2 linked regions of the Homo sapiens genome follow. Changing the gene in region 1 together with any one later gene gives a genetic interaction. Each region holds a gene or a part of one and is shown on either strand. Other genes may lie near its edges.

The links.
Region 2: of MELK (region 1) and HDAC4, extra expression of one impairs growth in a mutant of the other (dosage growth defect), as found in Homo sapiens cells (one large-scale study listed by BioGRID).

Annotation. Positions count from the first base shown.
Region 1 is NC_000009.12:36,663,108-36,666,926, forward strand, and holds part of MELK (maternal embryonic leucine zipper kinase), read left to right. Parts: intron 1-2,242; coding exon 2,243-2,474; intron 2,475-3,819. UniProt on the Homo sapiens protein: Serine/threonine-protein kinase involved in various processes such as cell cycle regulation, self-renewal of stem cells, apoptosis and splicing regulation. Has a broad substrate specificity; phosphorylates BCL2L14, CDC25B, MAP3K5/ASK1 and ZNF622.
Region 2 is NC_000002.12:239,131,745-239,135,563, reverse strand, and holds part of HDAC4 (histone deacetylase 4), read left to right. Parts: intron 1-920; coding exon 921-1,037; intron 1,038-1,120; coding exon 1,121-1,319; intron 1,320-1,325; exon of another isoform or gene 1,326-3,819. UniProt on the Homo sapiens protein: Responsible for the deacetylation of lysine residues on the N-terminal part of the core histones (H2A, H2B, H3 and H4).

The sequences.
Region 1 (3,819 bases):
TTCTCTCTTCTTGCCCAGGCTGGAGTGCAATGGCACGATCTCAGCTTACTGCAACCTCTGCTTCCCAGGTTCAAGCGATTTTCCTACCTCAGCCTCCCGAGTAGCTGGGATTACAGGTGCCTGTCCCCATGCCCAGCTAATTTTTGTATTATTAGTAGAGACAGAGTTTCACCATGTTGGCCAGGCTGGTCTTGTACTCCTGACCTCAGGTGATCACATGACTTGGCCTCCCAAAGTGCTGGGATTACAGGTGTGAGCCAGCGCACCCAGCCTGCTTTTCTTTAAAACAATATTTATATAAATTTATAGAGTACAAGTACAATTTTCTTAGATGCATAGTGGTCAAGTGAGAGGTTTTAAGGTGTCAGCTGAATAATGTACATCGCACCCCTTAAGTAATTTCTCATCACCAACCCCCTTCCATCTCCTCACCCTTCCAAGTCTACATTTTCTATCATTCCACTCTCTACATCCACGTGTACACCCTTTTTTAGCACCCACTTATGAGTGAGAACATGCAATATTTGTCATTCTGTGTCTGGCTTGTTTCACTTAAGGTAACCTCCACTTCCATCCACCTTGTTGCAAAAGATAGGATTTCATTCTTTTTTATGGTTGAATAGTATTCTATCTGTGTGTCTGTCTGTCTATCTATCTCACATTTCCTTTATGCAGTCATCTGTTGATGGACACTTGGGTTGATTTTGTATCTTTGCTATTGTGAATAAGTACTGAGATAAATATACAAGTGCAGGTATGTTTTTGATGTATTGATTTCTTTTCCTTTGGGAAAAGAAGTAGAGGGAATTGCTGCTTTTGCATTGTCCATACTATGTATATCTGGAACTTAGAATAGCCTTATGTTAGACATTTTATTTCATTTTCTGTTTCCTTCAACCATCTTTCACGTATCGTATGTCTTTTTCTGTCTTGGCTACATTCAGAGTTATTTCGGATTTATATTTCTATTAAAATATCTCTATTTCTTTTATTCTGTTATTTGACATGTGCATTGCACTTTTCATTTTTATCATGTTTTTATTTCTAGAAGTTTTTATTCTTTTTCAAATCTATTTGAACAGTTTTGGTAGTCTTTTGTTCTTTACTCATGTTTTTGTTTCACTATTTTAAACATGCAAACATACTTATTTATGTTCTGTATTTGATAATTTTAATATCTGAAATCTTTATGCTCATAGTGCTTGTGTCTTTTGGAATTTTTTATGTAGGTTTATTTTTCTTTGAACTCTATGGGAATTATCTGAGGCTTGGGTTAAGGGCTTGAGTTGGGTTGGAGTGAAGCTTTTCTTTCAGGTAGGAGTTGTGCGTGCTTCTACCAGGTTCCTGGGGCACAACTTAGCATAGGACTACTTTAAGTTAAATTTAGGCTTGAGGTTTCTGGGACCATGCAGGTTGTATTAATTTGGACCTTTATTTATCTGAAGACTGGCCTGTGTTTACTTACAAATTATTAAAAGAAACTTCATTTTTCTCCTCCCTCAGAACCAAGACCAAGACACCCTTTTTCTTGCCTATTCCCTTTGAAGAGCAGATTTATATTTAACTCAGCCTTTAATTTTAGCTATAGCCCTTCCTGGCTTTACATGGGAGCTTTGGTTCTAACTCACCACCTTGCAGAGGCCCAAGGCTTCTGTGGCTGTAGAAACACATGCTATAGGTTATCAGAGGCAGAAGATAGCTGCCCTTAGGGCAGCAGAGAGTTTCAGCCTTGGTTACTCCTTTGGATTCATTCTCATGTTTTTAGTTTGGCCTCTCAGGATTTTACTTACTCTCTTGCAAGCTCAACCATAAATTTAAAAGGATTAAAAAGTATTTTTTATCCAATATTTCTGTTAGAGTAGTTTAACATGTTTTTTCTGCCCTAATTGCTGACTAAACTTTTTTTTTGGTACATGTCAGAGGCAAGCCGTGACTATCTAGGTATGGAAAGCATTTCTTAGTGATTGATTTGTGGCCATTCACAATATTGCCTAGGATCTGAGTATGTGTATACACTCAGCCTGTATCATGTTGAAAATTACTGTCAATAGAACAGACTAAAGTGATCTACATGTATTAAAGAAAACTATATATTTTCAAATTTCCTAATGTCAATAATATCCTTTTGATAATTCATTTTAATAAAAATAGTACAAGGTAGTTTGCAAATGATCAAGGAATGTTGTAAAGAAATTGACTTTTCTTCTTCAGTGTGCTTTATCTAGTAACTTTTTTTTTCCAGTTTACCAAGTACTGGACAGAATCAAATGGGGTGGAATCTAAATCATTAACTCCAGCCTTATGCAGAACACCTGCAAATAAATTAAAGAACAAAGAAAATGTATATACTCCTAAGTCTGCTGTAAAGAATGAAGAGTACTTTATGTTTCCTGAGCCAAAGACTCCAGTTAATAAGAACCAGCATAAGAGAGAAATACTCACTACGCCAAATCGTTACACTACACCCTCAAAAGGTATTTGCTAAGTGAATTAAGCAGTAAGAAGTTTCATTTTTCTTACCATGTTAAGTAAACATATAGCAGGTCAGAAATGACTAGCATTGCTTTCAGGAATTTCTAGGAGAAGTGAAGCTGTTTTTTATCATGTCATTTGCATTAGTTAAAATGAAAGCATATTTGTCAATTTCAATTTATTCTCAAATGATACCAAGTTTTTCCTCTTTTTCACGTTTATAAAATTGAATCATAGCATCCTAGGATATCAAAGCTGAAAGGCAAGTTAGAGCTCATTTAATCCAACTCCCTTTTTCACAGCTAAGAAACCTGAGACTCAGAAGGAGTGAAGTGATTTGCCCAAGGTCATATACCCAGGTTTAGACCTTTCATGCCCATTTACCCCGACTTATGACTCAAGCTGACGCCTCCGCTGAGCCTTTACTTATCTGGATCTCCAGTTGTGGTGTCTGGTCCTGTTCTGCCCTATGGTATTACTGCCTGTCCTCAGCAGGCAGGGTGAATCCATGATGCCCTTCCAGATATCTGTCTTTGTCCAGTTATCACAACTTCCTCATTTCCCTTGGTTTCCTCTTCAATTTAGTCATGAGCAGTTATTTAAACCATTTCCTTTATGATACTTCACTGTTTTGGTTGCTGGCCTCATCTGGACACATTCTATTTGATCAGACTGCCTCTTAGAATACAGTGCCTAGAACTAAACTGAGTTTTCTAGACTAGGTCTCACTAGGGTAGAGTGGTAAGTGTCATGACAGTAGAGACTCTCTGCCTTGTTTATTGCAGCATGGCATGGTCTGTAGTAGGGGCCATACCTGTCTGGTACATAGTACACAGTACTAGACCTGATGCCTAGTACATAATAGGGGCCATATTTATGTAATGAATTAATAAATTAGAGCCCAAAGGAATTTTATTTACAGTGATCCTGTTTATGTCACTTTAAAAAATGTTACCTAAACTTTATTAGCCTTTTTCCCCCCACCAATTGTGACCTTCTCAAGTTTCAAGATTCTAACAAACCTAAACTCTGGAGCATTGCCATGTGAACTGCTGGGAAACCACATCCTGCCATTGTGCTTCTAGTGTACTAATGGAGCTCATAGCCAGTTTGAGGGGTTAACTTCTTGTCTATAAAGATATTACGGAAGACTTTGCCAGAATATTTGCTAGAAGTCCCATTTTTATGTTAACGTCATTTTCCATTTCATCAACTCAAATAACACTTTCCGCCAAAATGTGAGGCCAGTTTGGTGTCCTGATGATGTCTGTGTTTGTGTGTGTGTGTGTGTGTGTGTGTGTGTGTGTGTGTGTGTGTGTGTGTGTGTGATGGTGTGTGTGTGGGGGG
Region 2 (3,819 bases), on another chromosome or scaffold:
TGATTTGTGATTCACCCAACAGTGTTCGCCGTTCCTCTAGGCCAAGATGGTATTACCATGTTTCAAAAGTGTTTGCCAATTTGTTGGGTTTCAGAATACCTTTTTTGATGACCATGATGTGTTTTCCTGAGCGCCTTCCCCTTCCTGAGCTCTGCCGTCACTGGTCCTCACCGCGTGCTTTTCTCACTGTTAGTTGTTTGATTTGCAAGCTCTCTGTGCTGACCCTCGTCTGCCTCATACATGGCCAGTATTGTCATCATTGCCCACCTTTCGTAGAGGCAGTTGTTTTATGATTTTCTCTTTATTTTTAATTTTTGTGGGTACATAATGTATATATTTGTGGGGTACATGAGATGTTTTGATACAGGCATGCAATTTGTAATAATCACGTCATGCGAAGTGTGGGATGTCCATCCTCTCCGGTGCTTATCCTTTGTGTAACAAACAATCCAATCATACCCTTATAGTTATTTTTAAATGTACAGTTAAATGTTATTTCCTTTTTGTTTTCTGCCTTTGATGTTATGTCTGGAAAGACATTGCCAACTACAAAAAAGCATTGTAAACTATATTATCCTAGAAACTGCAAAACGGCATTGTAAACTATATTAGCCTAGATTTCCTTCTAACTGTTCTGTGGTAAATAATCAAACTGAATAGAAATCAACGAGATGATGCTGGACAAGGTGACAGAAGAAGAACTCGTATCGGGAGGAGGAAACTGGAGTGGTGAATTGTGCTTTCATGTTGTGGCACGTGTTGAAATCTCATGCTCTCATTGCTGTCTCATTTGTTACATGTACGTTTACGCTCATATATCAGAATTCAGTGCAGGTGTTTTCATCGTTGTTTTTCTTGGTGTATATTGCTGATGTTTGGCCGTGACAGACTGTGATGGTCATCGTGTGTTCTGTCCCCAGACGAGTTTGGCGCACAGACTTGTGGCACGAGAAGGCTCGGCCGCTCCACTTCCCCTCTACACATCGCCATCCTTGCCCAACATCACGCTGGGCCTGCCTGCCACCGGCCCCTCTGCGGTAAGTCAGCCCCCGTGGGTCCGTGTGGTGTGGGGTGGTGGTGATGGGTCCTTCCACCCGAGCATCCTGGCTGTGCTTTCCAGGGCACGGCGGGCCAGCAGGACGCCGAGAGACTCACCCTTCCCGCCCTCCAGCAGAGGCTCTCCCTTTTCCCCGGCACCCACCTCACTCCCTACCTGAGCACCTCGCCCTTGGAGCGGGACGGAGGGGCAGCGCACAGCCCTCTTCTGCAGCACATGGTCTTACTGGAGCAGCCGCCGGCACAAGCACCCCTCGTCACAGGTGAGCACAAATGGGCCTGGGTGCAGCCAGGCTCTGAGGCTGCCCACGCTCTGGATGGTGCCCCGCCTTCGCCTGCCTTTGGAGGAGACAGGAATGCACGCCTGTCCCACCCCCACAGTTCCCAAACACACATCCCCATCACGTGATGTAGCCACCGTGACTGCAGTGAAAATCCATGCCTCACTCCCAGAGTCAGGTAGATGGAGTGGAAACAGAAGTCACTTCCCCTTTCTCACCTTTTGGGAGAGGCCACCGGCTCTTGCGATTTGGGTTTCTGTCTGGACCAAGCTGAGCCAGCGCTGGAAGCCCAGAACCGACTCTTGTGGTCAGTTTGTGTTAGCGAACTTTTACAAATGTGCACTGTCTGGGGGAGTGGTTACATTTAGAAAAATACAATTTAGAGGAAAATGGGAACGTCCTTATGAAATTACATAGCAACAGCAATGTGAAAGTGTCACTTCAGAAATGAGGGCACACCGGCCGGACACGGTGACTGACACCTGTAATCCCAGCAGTTTGGGAGGCCGAGGCAGGCGGATCACGTGAGGTCAGGAGTTCAAGACCAGCCTGACTAACATGGTGAAACCCCGTCTCTACTAAAAATACAAAAATTAGCTGGGCGTGGTGGCGCACACCTGTAATCCCAGCTACTTGGGAGGCTGAGGCAGGAGAATTGCTTGAAATTGGAAGGCAGAGGTTATAGTGACCCGAGATGGTGGCACTGCACTCCAGCCTGGGCAACAGAGCGAGACTCCGTCTCAAAAATAAATAAATGAGGGAGCAGCTACCTACCCCCTTGCCGTGCGGGTCATCGTTGTACATCTTCATAGCTTTGTGTTTGGCTTCCTGGAAACCTGTTGTTGCCAATTGAAAGCTGAAATACCCTCAGAGCTGCACCTGTGAAACTCTGGCAGTGAACTTGGTGAAAACTCAGGGGCTTGGCGTGTTGTAGGAGGCTGCGCTGCAGGATGCGTGGGGCTAGGGGCTGGCTTGGGTGGGCTTGGGCCTCTGGCTTGACTAGTCTGGTGGATTTTGGTGTTTTCTTGTTTTGTGCTGCCCATGTGTCTCTGTTTAGACAGAGAGGATTCCTTCTTATTCCTTCTTTGCCCAGAAGCCAAATGGCGCAATCTTTGTTTTGTGCCTGAGCCCCTTTCTGTTTGTTTCTCCAGAAGCTTGAATTCGTGTCCCTGCCTGTCCAGAGCAGAGGAGCCCGTGGTGTAACGAGGGAGGGGGCAGCCCTCACAGTGCCTCTCTGAGCTGCGGCCACAGTGGCAGGCACGCGGATCTCTCTGGAGGAATGTATCTGAGGTTGCGTCTGAGTCTCTTGGATGCTCTAGATCAGCTGGCACGAGTGTGGGTAGTGAAGGACACCTGAGTTTCTCGCCTGTCTTTAAAAACGTAAAATGTGCCTGATCTTCAGGATTCCTGGGATTCACTTCGTCAGAGATGTTTGTCACTTATCTTCTTTCCTTCTCTAAATCAGTTTATTCTGCACGATTAAATAGCATGCGTAATCTTGTGTATCAGGTTTTTGGAAAACAGCCTTTTTGATAGAACCTGGATATCGAGTGTGCATGGGTCTCACCTCTCTGAGAAACGCACTGAACTCGGCGTTGCTTCTTCCCTGTGTGCGCTCATCCCTCTTTTCCTCCCAGGTGCAGCTTGCTCGTTGGCATGGGGACCTGCCCACCGTGCCCTGCCCAGGCTCTGTGCCACCAGGGGGCCCATGCATGGTTGCCCAGCTTGCTCTGGCCTTGCTTTACGCCTGTGCCCAGCAAGCCCCTCCAGTCCTATGCCGCCACCTCCAAAACCCTGCAAGCCCCTTCTCTCCTGCACAGCCTCCCCAGGTTGCCAGCAGCTCATCCTGCAAACCCCCTGGCAGGGAGCCTCGGAGCCAGTGTCACGTGTGCAGCGTAGTGCAGCCACACAGCCGCCTCTGTCCCAGCTTTCTCCTGCTCCATGACCCTGGGAAGCCGCTTATGCTCTGTGTGCCTTGTTTTCCCATCTAGGAAGTGGGGATACTAAGCGGTCCGCCCCCGTGAGCCTGATGAGGGTTAAGTGGGCTGTGCACTCATGTGCCCCTGCAGGTGTTGGCATCATTGTTGTAGTCATTGCCTTGTTCTTAACCTGCCACCTCCCATGCTCTCTCACTCCCCCAGCCAGCCCCTGTCCGTCCTCAGTGTCTCAGGGGCCCTCCCCCAGCCCCGCCATGAGCAGGGCCCTCATTTGGAACCCGCTGGGATTGCCCCATCTTCTTGTGGGAAGAAGCCTCCTGTGCAGGTTCCTCCCCTCCGGTCTGTCCTCCTGTATCCACCGGACTCTCCTTGAAGGCCTGGAGGCCCCCACGCTGTCTAGAGCAGTACTGGCCAGGTCAGGAGCCACCAGCCACGGGGAGCTGTTAAATAAATAAGTCAGAATTAGAATTCAGTTTCTCAGTCACATGTGCACCACATCCAGTGCACGGCCCACGGCTGTCCCCTGAATGTTCTCATTGTCACAG